Regions from separate parts of the Homo sapiens genome. Here region 2 is linked to region 1. Evidence: fine-mapped expression QTL. Tissue or cell type: whole blood. Region 1 holds a variant in brackets; the other region holds the start of a gene. All regions are shown on one strand. Distances are from middle to middle.

Region 1 (8,000 bases):
TCCAACCTCCACCACTCTCCACAAGGCCTGTACCCCAGATCATGTGTTCAAAATTGAACTCATGTCTTCCACCTCTTCCTTGGTTCTGGGCGGGACTGATAACTAGGCAGTCATTGTCAGCCCTTCCCTCTCCTTCACCCAGTATCCAAGCCAAGCCCTCCTACACACCCAGCCTCCACACCGTCCATCCTATCCATCCCCCTGCATCCCTGCTGTTACTGCCCCAATTCAGGCCCTATCATCTCTCCCTGTGCTATCAAAATAGTTGTTAGACTGGTTTTCTTGCCAACAGCTTAAAAAAAAAAATCTTTGCTCCTACTACTAGACTGACCTTGCTGAATGAAATCACTCCTATCCTCTAAGCTCTCCATGGGCTCTGTACCACTCACAGAACCCAGCGCAGAGACAGAACCCAGCCCCAAGTCCTGAGTAGAGATTTAGCATGCATAACCTGATCCTAGACCTCGTTTCCACCTAAACTCCACCCATTCCCTCCTGTCAGGTCCTCTGACCCCAGCTGCCCAGCACTGCCCCTTTTCCCTGCACAAAAATTGGCACTCCCAACTTGGTGCCTTGGGTTCATGCTACTAGGATCCTCACCCAACTTCTTATGGCTGCTGACTTTAGTTTAGTTGCCTGAGCCTCAGTTTCCTTCACTGTAAAAGCAGATAAAGATATCCAACTCTTGCACAGGGTTGTTTAGAGATTAAACGAGAGACACATGAGAAAAATGTGGTATATTGAGTGACACACAATAAACATGCAACAAATGGTAGCTGCTACTATTGATAGTTTTTTTTGTTGTTGTTTGTTTGTTTTTTTTTTTTTTTTTTTTTGAGTCTCGCTCTGTCTCCTAGGCTGGAGTGCAGTGGCACGATCTTGGCTCACTGCAACCTCTGCCTTCCGAATTCAAGCGATTCTTCTGCCTCCGCCTCCCGAGTAGCTGGGACCACAGGCACGCGCCACCATGCCTGGCTAATTTTTGTAGTTTTAGTAGAGACGGGGTTTCACCATATTGGCCAGGCTGGTCTTGAACTCCTGACTTCATGATTCACCTGCCTTGGCCTCCCAAAGTGCTGGGATTACAGGCGCAGGCCACCGTACCGAACCTATTGACAGTTTTCATTCACATCATGCTGATCTCTCAAGTCGGCATATCCCATCCTCTACCCATGGGAATCAAATTGGCCTCTCAAAGCCTTGCTCAAATGTCAGAAATAATCATTTCTTCCTCAGAGGAATCCTTACTTTATTCTGCCTTGCAGTTCAGAAGTTTTTACATCTTACCTGTCTCTCCTCTCTAGTGCGGTCAGGAGCTGTGGCTAAATCATCTCTATCCTTACACCTGGCCTAACGCACCTACATAGGATTTTAATACATTTATGTTGAACTGAATTTCTCTAAGAGGTCACCAGCTTGAAAACAGAGTTAAAGTCTCATCAAAGACTTGGACTAGGGGCTGGGTAGTGAGTAGTGAGGGTGTACAGATGGGGAATGGGAAAACCTGCAGATCCTCGGGAATTCCTTTACTTCTAGTCTAGATCCCTGCCGCTACAGCTCTAGGTCTTGGTTCTTACTCTAATTTCAGTGGAGATGAGGAGCACTTGAATTTTTATTTCCAACTTTTATTTTTTATTTATTTACTTTTTTATGATGGAGTCTTACTCTGTTGCCCAGGCTGGAGTACAGTGGCATGATCTCAGCTCACTGCAACCTCCACCTCCCAGGTTCAAGCAATTCTCCTGCCTCAGCCTCCTGAATAGCTGGGATACAGGTGTGTGTCATCACACCCGGCTAATTTTTTATATTTTTGGTACAGACGAGGTTTCACCATGTTGGCCAGGCTGGTCTTAAACTCCCGACCTTAAGTGATCCACCTGCCTCGACCTCCCAAAGTGCTGGGATCACAGCCAACTTTTATTTTAAGTTCAGGGGTACACGTGCAGGATGTGCAGGTTTGTTACTTAAGTAGACGTGGGCCATGGTGGTTTGCTGCACAGAGCACTTGAATCCTGACATTCATTCATTCAACAAGTGCTCACTGAGCACCTGCTGCACCATTAGCGGGACATTGTCTAGGTGCTGGGCAGAGAGCAATGAATGAAAAGTCCCTTCCTATGAGAAAGGATCCTTCCAATTCTCAAAAGCCATTGAACTCCATTATAAATAGCTGTACCATTGTTCAGTTGGGTGGTAAGTTAAATCTGTGTTTTTCTATTTAAATGATATTAAATATTCCCACTACAATATTGAAAAATCCATGAGGAATGAAGGAACTGTCATCCTTATCCAAAGCCCGGATTTAAGTCTGCTGAAGTGGCCTGTCAAGTGGATCCTGCATTGTTTGGTCACCCGATGAGATGACCCCTGAAATATTTTATTTTCCTACCCTTAACTCATTTTGTTGGCTTTTCCTGAAACTTTTATAAGAACACAAAGACTTCCATCCAGTGACCCCAAAGAGGCCTGGCCATATCCCAAGGAGGCTAAGACAGAGGAGTGAACGCTCATTGTGAACGTTCGTTGTGAATGTTGTGTCCCAGGGCTCTTCAAGCAAAGGCAAGACTTGCCACAAGGAGTTTACAATCCAGATGATTGAAGCAAACACACTCACTGGTGTTCCTGTATCTCTGATGCTCCCTATTACAGCCCTTTCTTCCACCCAAATGTTTCTACCTAGTCCGGGTCTCTTACAAACACTAACTCCTTCTCTTCTGCGTAGAAAAGCCTCCTTACTGCCTGACGTCATTTCTACCAGCCTTCCAGGTCGAGCTCAATCCCCAAGTCCTCCACGATGCCCCCTGACCACTCTGGCAGGCAGAGCTCCCTGCCTGCACCTCCTAATACCCACCAGCACTGGGCTGGGTATAAGATCAGGTCACTCACATGGACTAGTATCTCCTGTCCCTCCTTCTCTCAGCCCAGACCTCATTTCCCACCATTACTGATTTAGGAGAGCTGGTTACTATCTTTCCCTACTTCAAGAGACAAATGAGAATATTGGCAAACTGCTTTGAACTCTTTAGAGTCAATGCCACTAACAAGTGCCCAGAACTGACACCACAGAAGTAACCTAGTTGTTACATAACCCTTTGCAGCTATGTTAACAGAGAAGTAACATAGCTGCAAAAGGAGGTGAAATGCTTTTCCTGACATCTGGAGAAGCATGCAAAAAATAAACAACTAAATAAAAAAGGCACAGAGACCCTTGGAGGAGGAGCCAGTTGCTTCCTGTTGAGACACTTTTGTTTCTAAGGCCCG[G/C]CCACTGTGATGCAACAACTCACACTGCCACACAGACATCTTCCTGTATTCTCCCCAACATGTTACCCACTTCAAAGCCTTATAGAATAAGGCTGCCCACTGATCTGGTGGTCCGAGAGAACCCTCTCTCATAAAGCAAAGCAAATAGCAGATAGGTAAAACATCTTTATCCAACAGTGTTAACCAGGATGCAGCACGCATCTGGCTAGAGGTGAGGAAGGCCCTGTGCTTGCTCTCACCTGTGCAGATCTATGCCACACCCTTTTGTGCCAGGAGGAAGCAATTGTCTCTTCCGAAGAGTTTAAGCCTTATCAAAGACTTAGACCAGGGGCTGGGTACTGAGTCAACCTTCCTCTTCCCCAGGCCTGCTCACGCACTGGCTGGCTGAGGGCCCCCATCCAAATTCCTGGAATTTCAAGGCAACAGGGCGAGTATCGCCGAGCCCTCTCGGGCTGGCTGGAGTTCCCCAGCTGCTGAATCACCAACAGGCTCTACCAGGGCCGAGTTCTGAGGTTGCAGAGAAGCCGTGCCAAGCTGAGGCACTCTGAAAACCTGTTCCAGCTGACTGGCACTGTGACACGAGGCCTTGAGGTGTCTCTGGAAAGGGTTACACTTGATTTTCCCAGAGTCCAGGAGGGAGGAAGAAGGGGATGGCGGCAGTGGGCTAGGGACAAAGCTGGGGATAAAGTGGCAGATGCTATAGCTATCCACAGGGCCCTGGGCCCTTTGCATTGTGAACCAGCTGAGCAGAGGGCACCTGGCTGACAAGAAGTACAGGAACCAAACACCACCTCTGGAAGGATCCATGGGGAGGTTATAAGTCCCTCCCTATCCGTGAAGGCCCATTGGCCCCATCTCAACTTCCCTGGCCTGTGATGTCTCAGAATTACCATCCTCTGGGCCCAGGTGAGCAGTGGTTCTGCTGGTGTGCACCTCGGGCCAGCAAAGTTAGACTCTTGGTGGCTGAAATCAAACCAAGCCCATCCCCTCAGCTCAGTCAAAGCCATGTGTGGGCATCATTCACACAAGTGGCTTGAAAGTAGGGTATGAGCAGGGAGGAGGTAAAAACAAGCAATCCTTGAACTCTGTCCCATTTCCTCCATGTGAATAGCTTGGTGATGACAAACTCATCCCTGCACCCTGGTGCACAACACCCTGGACACCCCGGAACCACCCTGCAGAAGGCATTGTGAGGCTTTGGGTTTGGGCCAATACAAATACCAGTGTGACTTGGCAGAATCTCAGATCAATGCAGCATCAGCCTGGAAGTAGGGGATGGGGGAAGGGGACAATGCTGCCCCATTGCTAATCCCCACTGTCCACCTTGGGGGCTGGCCACAGGACACCCCTTAGGCATGCTCACTTGAGTTGATAAGGGTGGCTGATTAAGAAGCAAGTTCAATCAAGAAGGAAACAAATCCCCAGAACTACAGGTTTTCAAGAGTTAAGGGGTAAATACACTTACTTCTTGCAGCTCCACATTTCTCAACCCACATCACACTGCAAACTGGCAGAATCTCTAAGTTCTCCTCCTTGGGCCCCAGAAGCAAGGGGCAGGAGGAGGGAGAAGAGGCTAGTAGGGGAGAAAGGCCTGGGCAACAAGTGCAGGCTCCAGGTGCTGAAGAGGAGGAGTGGACGGGGTGGTACTCAGATTTACTCCCTTTCACTGGGAGACCTTGACCAGACCACCCGCTAGCCCAGGGGTTCTTACTGCTGGTAGCAGATGCCCCTTAGGGAGCATCTGAGAACCTGTGGTGGGAGGTGCTTTCTGACTGTCACAAGGACTAGGGGGCACTACTGGTACTTAATGGTGGGGCCGCGGATGCTAAGTTTCTGATTTCTGTAATGCACAGAACCTTGTCTTGCTTAACATATTGACAGTGCACTCTGTTGAGAAATTCTGGGCCCCAACAGAGAAAGTCTCTTCAACTGCAGGTCATTTAGTTTCCAACTGTATATGGGCAGATGTACCCAAAACTCAGGGGAAATGCAACAAGCTTGTAGTCACATGAGCAGACAGGGCCACTCATTAGAGCCTTGAAAATGGTCACAGAAGGACCATGGTGATCCAACCTGCCCCATTTACCTGGAATGCTTTTTCCTGTCAGCTCTTCCCTCTATTCTCCAGGTCATCAGCCTGTGCCTGTCTTGTCTGTCTCTTTGTATTAACCCAAAGCATTCAGGTTACACAACATGAAGCCTATTTATAAAGTAACAAGACTGACAAGTCACAAAACCCACTCCAGGTGTTTTATAGTGGTGGGGTTCCAATGAGACTCGGAAGCCCCAAGAGGGAAGAAACACACGGGGATGATGCATTTGACTTTCTTTTGGTCCACTGCCAGATTTTAAGGCCCCTAATGTATCTCCCTCAGGTCAATACATGTTCTTACCAGCCACGTGTAGCAAAGCTGTTCAGTTAATGCCCCAAATGCACTTAGTTGTATGGGCAGAATCTCATTTATTGACTCGAGACAAACCAGTAAGGAACAAGGCATGCCAACCCCAGAGCTGTGGGGCAGAGAGCATCATGTATCTTTTAGCAGTGTCAATTTAAGACATTTTAAAGGAAAACAAAAATCCCGGAGAAAATGCAATAGCTCTGCTATGGGAAAATGGGAGTGGGATCTCCCCTACCAACCCTGCTCTAGTCCATTTTCCCCTTTAACTTTTGCTGGGGAAAGGGTGGTGATGAGAAGCAAAAAGGAGGGAGAGGGAAAAGAGGAAGTTTTCTGCTAGGATGGTTTAGTTCTAGCAAGAACAGAGACCAGCAGGAAGACTACAGAAAGAAGAATGAAGGTGGCAGCATTTCACCTTTAAGTCCCATGTAAGAGTGCAGTGAGAAAAGGGTTTCAGGTTACTAACAGTTAGTGTATTTCTGAAGTATTTTCTGGAAAAATTAGACTCATCTAAATGAAAGTGGTTCAGGAGTCAAAACCAATTGATAAAGTGGTCCAGACACTTTAGAAGACAGTTTTTCAGTTTCTTACAAAATCAAACACACCCTTATACAATCCAGCAATAGTGCTCCTTGGTATTTACCCAAATTAGTTGAAAACTTATCTTCAAAGAAAAATCTGCATATAGATGCTTACAGTAGCTTTAATCATAACTGTGAAAACTTGGAAGCAACCAAAATATTCTTCAGTAGGTAAATGGATAAACAAATTGTGGTACATTCATACAATGGGATATTATACAGCAATGAAAATAAATAAGCATCAAGTCACATAGAGAAAGCTTAAATACATATTACTGCATGAAAGACGCCAGTCTGAAAAGGCTGTATATTGTATGATTCTAACTATATGACAGTCTGAAAAAGGCAAAACTGTAGAGATTGTAAAAAGATCAGTAGTTGCCAGGGGCTTGGGAGAGGGGAGAAAGGGATGAACAGGTGTAGCACAGGCAATTTTTAGGTCAGTGAAATGACTCTGTACAATACTATAATGGTGGGTATGTGTCATTATAAATCTGTCCAAACACATAGAATGTACAACTACAAGAGTGAGCCCTAATGTAAACGAGGGACTTTAGTTTATATCTAACTTTAGTTAACTAATATTAACTTTAGTTAATAATGTACCAAAATTGACTCATCAATTGTAACAAACATATCACACCAATGCAGGATGTTAATAACAGGTGAAACTATGCAGTGGGGTAAAGCTCTCTGTGCTTTCTGCTCAATTTTTCTGTAAATCTAAAGCTACTCTAAAAAAGTATTCTATTACCAGCTGATGACAGTTACAGCACTGTGAAGTTGGATGACTTTACTCTGCACTCTGGATTGTCCAGTCATACTGTTTCCCTAGGTTCAAGTACAACGTCCTTCTCCTAAGGAAGCCATGGCAGGGGCAGCTTGAGTCAGACATTTCTGGAAATGCAGAGGAGACACTGCTTAGTCGTGGATGAGCAGCCTTGTACGGAGCACTGTGGCTCTCAGCCTCATCTGCTGCCCTGTGGGCTCAGCTGATTGCAAAGACAGACAAAGCTCACTTCCAGCCTTTGCCATCACTATGAATTCTACCCTGCTGAAAACAGAGAGGGCAGAAGCACGCTTATTTCTCACCTATGGTGAAATGTGTTGAAGGGCTATGTTCAGTAACATCTAATTTTAGTCAACTAGTCTTAACTTTAGTTAATAATATACCAATATTTTTGATATATTTTGAACAATTGCTCATTAATTGTAACAAACATACTACACCAATATCACATGTTAATAACAGGGTCATAGTAGCATGTATTCACAGTGGCTCCCAGGGAGAAGCAATGACCAGCTTCGGTCAGTAGCTGATCTCGCCGGGCTGGGCTGCCCTGTACCCCAAGCCTCACTCTCACACTGGGAGCATGTCAGACGAGAGGAGGCCGAGAAAAACAATGATCCCTGTGGAAAGAGGCATGGAAAAGGCAGGGGTTGGGGGAGTGGGGAGGGAAGGGTAGAACGATGTGGGGGGCGGGTGGGTCTTCCAGAGAAGTCATCTAGTAGAAAGGTTGACAGGCACACAGTCAGGAATCTGAGCAGCCTTTGAAACAACCAAGAAAAGCCAGTATCCTGGTTTTAGTGCAACTGGCCTTGCTTGTGTGGTTTCCCACAAAAAAGATGATGTATCTTAGGCGCTCTGGCTCTCAGCTGGGGATAAGTTATCAATACAATTTTTAAAAATCTATTGTCAGTGAGCTCTGTGACCAAGAGGGCAGAACCTAAGAGTTACTACAAGGGTAGTTTAATTCAA
Region 2 (8,000 bases), 29 kb after region 1:
ATCACAACCGCAGTGGAGGAGGCCTGGCCATCCATTTTAACCAGCCCTCCAGATCATTCCAATGTAAGGCCTGCTGTAGAGGATACTACAGAGGTTTTGAGTGTGACACCAAGCACAAGATGCCTAATTCAGTGTGTACAAGCCATTTTCATTTCCATTAACCAAACCTCCTCTTCCCGTTGCCCATCCCTTTTAGAGGGCAGTGCAAAGAGTAGGACCTTGTTCAAGACACACTTTGAAAAGGTCCTTAGGCCTAATGGAAAAGTCATCTATTTTTCATATGTTGCCACAGTAACAGTAACAAGAAGCATCACTTATTCCTATAAGAAAAGTCCCCTTTGCAGGGGACATTGAGTATTTATAGAAAGATCACTTTATCCTGAGGAACCCAAAATCTGGAAAAGCAAATATGGAAAACTCAGCCTCTAAGGCTTCCATATACAGCTTTACAGCCCATGTTCTAAGTGAACACTCCCTAATTATGGCTGCCCAATACGGAAAACATGTGTCCTAGGAAAACCTCCACTGTCTACTCTGAAAGACATCACGTCCAGGTAATAGAGAAAAGAAACGTCTTCTTTCAGTTCCCGTACTGGTCCCTCAGTCCTGACTTAAACAGGGAAGGTGATCTATTTCGCCTCTGCCCATCCTTAATGCTACTTCATTTCCTATGACATCATTCTTTAGGTCCACATTCGGTCCTTACTTACGGGAGTTGCCATAAAAATAATAAAGCTTATCTCTGGATTATAAAATCCATTTTTGTATCATAAGATCAGTTGCATTTTGTGTGCAGTCCTTATTTTTTTTTATAAATAGCTTCCATATTTACCATCTCATTTGAGTCTTACAACAGCCTGTGAGGTGGGCACAGTTTTATTATTCCCACTTTACAGATGACAAAACTGGAACTTAGTGCTAACTTCCATAAACAACTGATCGTTGAATACTAAAGGAGATACAAAAAATTTGCATAAAAAATTAAATAATTAAATAATTAAAATTAAAAAAGATTAAATTAAAAAGAATTAAAGAATTCATGATGTCTAAAAGAACCTCCAGGGCCGGGCACGGTGGCTCACGCCTGTAATCCCAGCCCTTTGGGAGGCTGAGGTGGGTGGATCACGCGGTCAGGAGATGCAGACCATCCTGGCTAACACGGTGAAACCCCGTCTCTACTAAAAATATATTTAAAAAATTAGCCGGGCGTGGTGGCGGGCGCCTGTAGTCCCAGCTAATCGGGAGGCTGAGGCAGAATGGCGTGAACCCGGGAGGCGGAGCTTGCAGTGAGCCGAGATCGCGCCACTGCACTCCAGCCTGGGAGACAGAGCGAGACTCCGTCTCAAAAAACAAAAAACCAAAAAAACAAAAGAAAACAAAACAAAAAAACCCTCCAGATTTGCTTGAATTTGTCATTGGCCAAATCATATTCACCAGAAATTACCTAGGTAGGTTTTTAGGTTGGGTGATATTTTTCGAAGGAATGGTAAAGAGCATGGAGATGAGATAAACGAAAACCTACAAACTCTCCCAGTTATACAACTCACATAACCTGCAATGATGTCTGGAATTCTATGGGGCCCAAAGTAACAACAACAATGATGATGATGATAAGATTAAGATCTTACTACATACCAGGCACCCTTCTGCATACATTAAATATATTCAACAACCCTATTAATATCCCCATTTTGCAGGTGAGAAAAACAAGGCATAGAAAAGCTAAGTAACTTGCCCAAGATCACACATCTTGCTCCGTGAACACAGAGGAGGAAATGTAACTGGAAATGCCAAGCCCCCGTGCGGTCTGCCTGCCAGTGATGGAAACCTGACATGGGAGGGCAGCCACCACAGGAACCTGGGTTATGTTTCCAGTGTTGCCATTTGGGCAACAGTCTTCACATTCTCTTACTGAAAACATTAATCAATGCTCAGGTTCCAAGTAATCAAACATTAACCGAGACTCCTAACAGCCAGTTCCTTCTCAGACTAGCCCCACGGAGGTTTCCTAGATCTCGGGTAGCGATGGAACACTGGTTGATTCTCCTGGAACTGCCTTCAACTATTTAAGAAAAATCAGAGGGGAAAGCAGCTTTGAAGGAAATGTGCAAAGTAAAGCTATATGTGGGAGGCAGCAGTTCTAGTAAACGCACAGAACTCACAGCTGTGATTTTTCTTTTAAAGACATATAAATAAAAAGGAGTCCTCACTGGTGTAAATTACTCCTGCCTTTTTTTTTTCTCCACTTTTTTCAACTGCTCACATTTTGGAACTGTGTGAGCAAGTTTTTACATATTGATCAATCTTTTAAAGTTTATACATCATTTTCTTAAAGAAGGAAACAAAGATCAAGCTGAAAAGAACATTCAGGCAAAAGAGAAAAATTACATGATGAATGAATGCAGTCTTTGTGGGCGAGAATTCTGGGATGGGAGTGTGGGGTGTAGGGACAGCTTTCAAACACTTACTCAAATGTGCTTATCTTCATCATTTCCTGCCTCTAATTTTTACCGAATAACCACCTTGAGATCCCAGGAATTCAATAGGAAACTCAATTTAACAACAAGTTCCAGGGTATTCCACATAATCTCTCTTTAAGGCAAAGTCCCAAAAGAGAGATGGGACTATAATGACCACAAGTTAGGTGACTTTTCATATTCACATTCCTTCCACGTTCTTCGACAATCCTGGTCCAGTTACTTACTGTGGACCCTGTGTGCTTTACTTTCCTCTGCTATATAATGAGAATAATATTAACACCTTCTTTATCCGGTTGGTGTGAAAACTGCATGAATAAATGTAAAGCACTTGGACTGTGTCTGACACAGAGTAAAATGCTCGAATAGCATCAGCTGTTATTACTACTACTACTTACTACTATTATTTGCAAAAACATTACAAGGGATAATTATATCCAGGAAGCTTCCCTTGTATTGGTAATGTTTTATTGCTTTTTCTAAAATTTAAATCAGAGCAACAGTCAATACATGCACACAAAAAAGGCAATTCTTCAAAAATGTGGGGGAAAAGCCTCCCATACCCATGTTACCTGCTGGTGAGTTTCAGGTAAGGGTGTAGCTGGGAGCATCCGGTTCCAAGACTGCCTTGTATTTCTCTTACAGGATGCCTCCCCTTCTGCTGCGGTTTTTAATCAGCGTTTCTAGGGCAGGCTTGCAGGCGGGGCCGCGAACCCCCTGTAGTTGTACACGGAGCTGGGTGAGGCTGCGGCTCTGGGCATTTCTGGGGAGGAGTTCCATGGCTTTCCACAGACTCTAACCACCCTGCAGCGAGCCGCATGCTATACGGGTTAAACTCGGGGCATATCGAACGAACAATTCACTTCACGGAAGACTAGCAATAACCAGGACACCTGCGCTATTGATCAGCTATCTCAACACCAGAGAGACCCACCAGCACAAGGGGCAAGAATTGGCCAGGAGGCGCGCGGCGCTGCGCCCTCACCGCGTCCAGACAGACCCTTGAACTTCACCGCCAAAAAACGCACCGCTCCGCAGACCCGACCCGGGAGAGGGGTTTAACTTCCCCTCACCTTTCCCATCCCTCCTTCATTTCCAAGGACATACTCAAAGGAAACTGGCAACACTCGGTCTAGGGTTTCGCTCCTGCCCTCGGCGGACACCGAAACCACTTCTCCCAGGGAAGTTAATTAAAGGAACCATTAATCCGCCCAAAAATCCAAAACCTACCCCCAAAGCTCAAGAGCTCTGAAAAGAGATCGAGGGCGCCTCTGCCGATCTTGAACATCTCTGCTCGTCGCTGGGGCTTAGAGGTGGGCAGGGGGTGCCAAAGGGGCGCAGGCAAGACCCGGCCAGAGGGTTAGACGCCGGCCCCCGTTCCGAGGCGGCCCAGTCTACACGCCAGCGACGCCGGCTGAGCCGGGCTTGGAGGCAGCCAGGTAAGCAGGTAGGTGTAGGCATGTGTCTGAGCAGACACACAGCTGCGGCGGATTAAAGTTCAAGCCCGTTCACACTCCGCTTCCCCTTCCCAGGTGTTCTCACGCACGGCCCAGGCAGCCACTTTCCCGGGGAAGCCTCGGCGCTCGACCGGACAGTCCCCTCTTTGTCATTCTTAATGACTCCCCTTGCCTCCCAGGCGCCAACCCATTGAGACTACTCGCTTCTCTCCACTCTCCCAGGCGGGCGCAGAAACCCCCGGAAAGGGGAACTCGGCGGGGACCGGGGGAAGCAGGGTGTCGCGCGGCGCAGGGGGCGCCGCAGCCGGCGTACGTACCCAGAGCGAACAGGGCGAGCTGTCCAGCCGAGGGGACCATTTTACGGGCGGGCGGGCAGCAGGCTCTCCAGCCTCCTGCCCTACCTGCGGTGCCCGAGTGGCGGAGCGGCGCCGCGGTGCGGGGGAAAAAGACGCAGACTAGGCAGGGCCTGCCCCCGGCGCGGGAGGGCGGAGGGAGGACCGAGCGCCTCTCTGCTGGCACTCGCCCCGCAGCGCTGCCCGCCGGGCGGAAATAGGAAGGCGGCTACCGTCACCTCCTCGCCACTCGGCGACCGGGGCACAGCTGACCCCCCCCTCCCGCCCCGATGGGGGTGCCCCCCTGAGGGCACAGAGGGTGGGGGTTTGGGGTAAGGGGCGGGGACGCTGAGCGCACCGAGCAGGGCGCGGGCTGCTGGGCGGGGCGACCTGGGATCCCAGAGCCTGGCGGCGCGAGCCGGGCACCCGGGCCGACGAAAAGGCAGGAAGCGCCTGACTTCAGACACCACCCCCGACTGCCAGCGCCGTGCGGCAGCGGACTCCAGCGTGCGGGGTCGGCGCCGGCCGCGTAGCCGGATTGTCCTGGGCCGCAGTGGCGGCTTCCAGGCTCTAGGCGGCGGAGCGGAGCCGCCCGGGCACCCGTTACCTACACCGAGGGGCCGCTCCTGGGGCATCTCTGGGGCGGGGAAGGCTGGAGGCTGGGGACGCAGCCAGGAAAGGGACCTGTGAGTTTCGCCGGCCGCTTGCCAAGACTTGGCTCAAGGAAAGTGGTCCCCTGAATCAATGAAGAATTTGTTAAACCAGGTTTCCCACCTGTGCCACAGTTCCCATCAATTCTGGCAACGCCTGCCGCCTTACCTCCCAGGCAGGCCACATCGTTAAGATCAGTCTTCGTACTTCTGGCCTGGGACTGATAAAAAATGGGTCTCTGTGACGAATCTGGTTATATGGCACCACCAGCTGAGGCCAAAAGCCTGCTAGCCTGCCACCAAGTGTACCCCGAAAGAGGGGTGTGTGGGCCCGAGTCACCTGGGTGGTCCTTTCAGGATTTGTGGCTCTGAGGTGGCCCCTGGTGCTGGAATTTGGGGAGGTGGAGGGGATAGAGGGAAGACATTCTGGGCGAAGAGTGGAAGATCCATAGGTTCCTCGGTGACCCTCATGGGGACAGTACACCCGGGAGATTCATGTTCTCCAGGTACCCGGAGCTCACGGACTGACCCTCTTCTCCTGCCTCCTCTGGCCTACGTGCTCCGGGTAGATCCACTTTCCTTGAAGGTGGGGGTGGGGGCTGTTGGGCCTGGGGAATCTTTTGCTGTTTACTTGGGGAGGCTCAGGCTCTCACGGTTGACCTCTGCCCAGTTTGTTTCATGTAAGTAGAGCAACCTAGTTTCAAGAAGGAAGCACCAGGCCATTGGTCTCAACATTTGGGCAGGAAGCACCAGTGTAAATCATTCCTTTCAATAGATTTGTCGGAGCATACTTTGTTCTTTTAGGGTAAATCTTTTCCTTGGTCCACCCCATGCATGTACAAGGCACACATGCACTTCCTTTAGTAGGTTGTCCCTGACTCCCACTTCCTTCAGGTTGATCTTGACCTGCTCTGGTGGTTTCCCTGTCTCCTCCCTAAACTAGTCTGCTTTGGCTACAGAAGGGGAGGAATCAGGGGTTCCCCCACCCTTCTCCTGTTCCCCAGGACTAGAGAAGGACCTGACTCCTTGCTTCCTACTGGAACACGCAAATCAAGCTCACTGTGGCTGAGGGATGGCTGCCCAGCCGGCTGAGGGTCATGTTCAGCAGTTTCTGCTTATCTGTCCCCTACCCCCAAAGTCAGAGGTGGAGGGAAGTAGCAGAATCAAGTCAATTTCCTTCATGATTGGAAAATATTTTAAATCAAGAGGTAACTTGCAGGCCAGGCATGGTGGCTCACACCTGTAATACCATCACTTTGGGAGGCTGAGGTGGGTGGATTGCTTGAGCTCAGGAGTTCGAGACCAGCCTGGGCAACATGGTAAAACCCCCCATTTCTACTAAACATACAAAAAATTAGCCAGACATGGTGGCGTGCGTCTGTAGTCCCAGCTACTTGGGAGGCTGAGGCACGAGAATCACTTGAACCTGGGAGGCAGAGGTTGCAGTGAGCCAAGATTGTGCCACTGCACTCCAGCCTGGATGACAGAACAAGACTCTGTCTCAAAAAAAAAAAAAAAAGAAAAAAAGAGATGGCCGGGCGCGGTGGCTCACGCCTGTAATCCCAGCACTTTGGGAGGCCGAGGCGGGCGGATCACGAGGTCAGGAGATCGAGACCATCCCGGCTAAAACGGTGAAACCCCGTCTCTACTAAAAATACAAAAAAAATTAGCCGGGCGTAGTGGCGGGCGCCTGTAGTCCCAGCTACTTGGGAGGCTGAGGCAGGAGAATGGCGTGAACCCGGGAGGCGGAGCTTGCAGTGAGCCGAGATCCCGCCACTGCACTCCAGCCTGGGCGACAGAGCGAGACTCCGTCTCAAAAAAAAAAAAAAAAAAAAAAAAAGAAAAAAAGAGATAACTTGCCATCTTACAAACTAAAGAGTATCCAAATCAAAGTACATTCTAATGCTTGAAAATCATTAATTCTCCCTCCAAGATTTTCAAAAGCTGGTCCATATCTGTGGTTTTATAACCCTCCAATTCATTCAAGTCAAACAGGTCATCAGGGGCTGGGTGTTTTTTTTTTTTTTTTTAACTTAAAGATCATTTTTTTGGTAAACTGAATTGAAATGATTTTTAAACGTTTAGTCATAGAGGAAACCTAATATCCTAAATTGTTGATGCTCTATCTTTTGTATTTTATATATCTCATTTAATCCTCACAATAATCTTATGAGATAGATCCCATCCCCTTTTATAAGAGAAGAATCAAGACTGAGTGAATTTAGTAACTTACCCAGAATTACACAGCCAATAAAGGGCAGAGCTTGATTTTGAAAGCAGAACAAGCTGGTTCTGAGGCTTATGTGCTGGCTTCTCTGCTATACTGCCTCGGTTTCCACATTTTCAATAAGGATAATGCTTAACTCATTGGGTTGATGTGAGTACTAAATGCAAGAATTTATTTGCATACTTAGCATAATATTTGACATCAACAAAACTACCTATTATTTAAAGGAAAACTCCCTCAGTGGACACACCTTTCCCTTGTCTTAGTTCCTTACCACTATCTTTATGTTATCATTTTCATATCAGCTTCTTTGCTTGAGCATATGCATGTACATGCACGTGCATACCTCTTCCTATGGGAAATATTTTCATAGGTGAATCAGGAGGTATGAAGTTGTTTCTCAGCTGTGGTGTGAAAGAAATAAGAAAAAAATTGACAGAACGCGATTTAGAGCAAAGCAATCATTTTTCCTAAAGGGTGGTGTGACATTTTGTATTGGAACACCTCACTCTCTGAGCCGAGTGAAATTCCAACTGTAGCCCCTTGAAGCTGTGTGGAGACTCAGGTATGCGCCTTCACCTACAGACACTGCATCTGTCTCGCGTGGCCACTGCAGCTCCTGTTTCTCTGCACGTGGAGCCTGATGATTATGTGGCCTTCCCACTAAGAGTCTGCCTGGACTGCCTTTGCACACACTTGCTGCAGCTGGCCTTGAGCTCAGTATAATCTCTTCTGTGAGAAGCCAATCACAGCCTCTCCTCCCTGTGCAAACAAGAGAACTATGTTATGCTCTACTGAGAGCCGGTAAACCGCCCTGTCAGTTTTCCCTTTCCTTTCTCCTACATGCTTATTATAGA

Evidence for each region. PIP is the estimated chance that this variant, and not a neighbour inherited with it, causes the effect.
Region 2: TGFA starts here. The variant in region 1 is fine-mapped to the expression of TGFA in whole blood (TOPMed, PIP above 0.99).

The regions. Positions count from the first base shown.
Region 1 is chr2:70,520,803-70,528,802 of GRCh38, forward strand. All of the region lies in intron 1 of TGFA (transforming growth factor alpha), which reads right to left. Among named protein-coding and RNA genes, the nearest start is that of TGFA, 29 kb to the right of the region's middle. RefSeq lists an enhancer at 3,210-3,826. The variant G/C (reference allele first, on the strand shown) is at 3,262.
Region 2 is chr2:70,549,477-70,557,476 of GRCh38, forward strand. It overlaps TGFA (transforming growth factor alpha), which reads right to left and starts at 4,350. Exons shown (of 6, transcript NM_003236.4): 1 at 4,252-4,350. The coding sequence starts at 4,291. LOC124907824 (a long non-coding RNA gene) reads left to right here and starts at 3,232. Exons shown (of 2, transcript XR_007086906.1): 1 at 3,232-3,916. RefSeq lists a silencer at 4,411-4,480.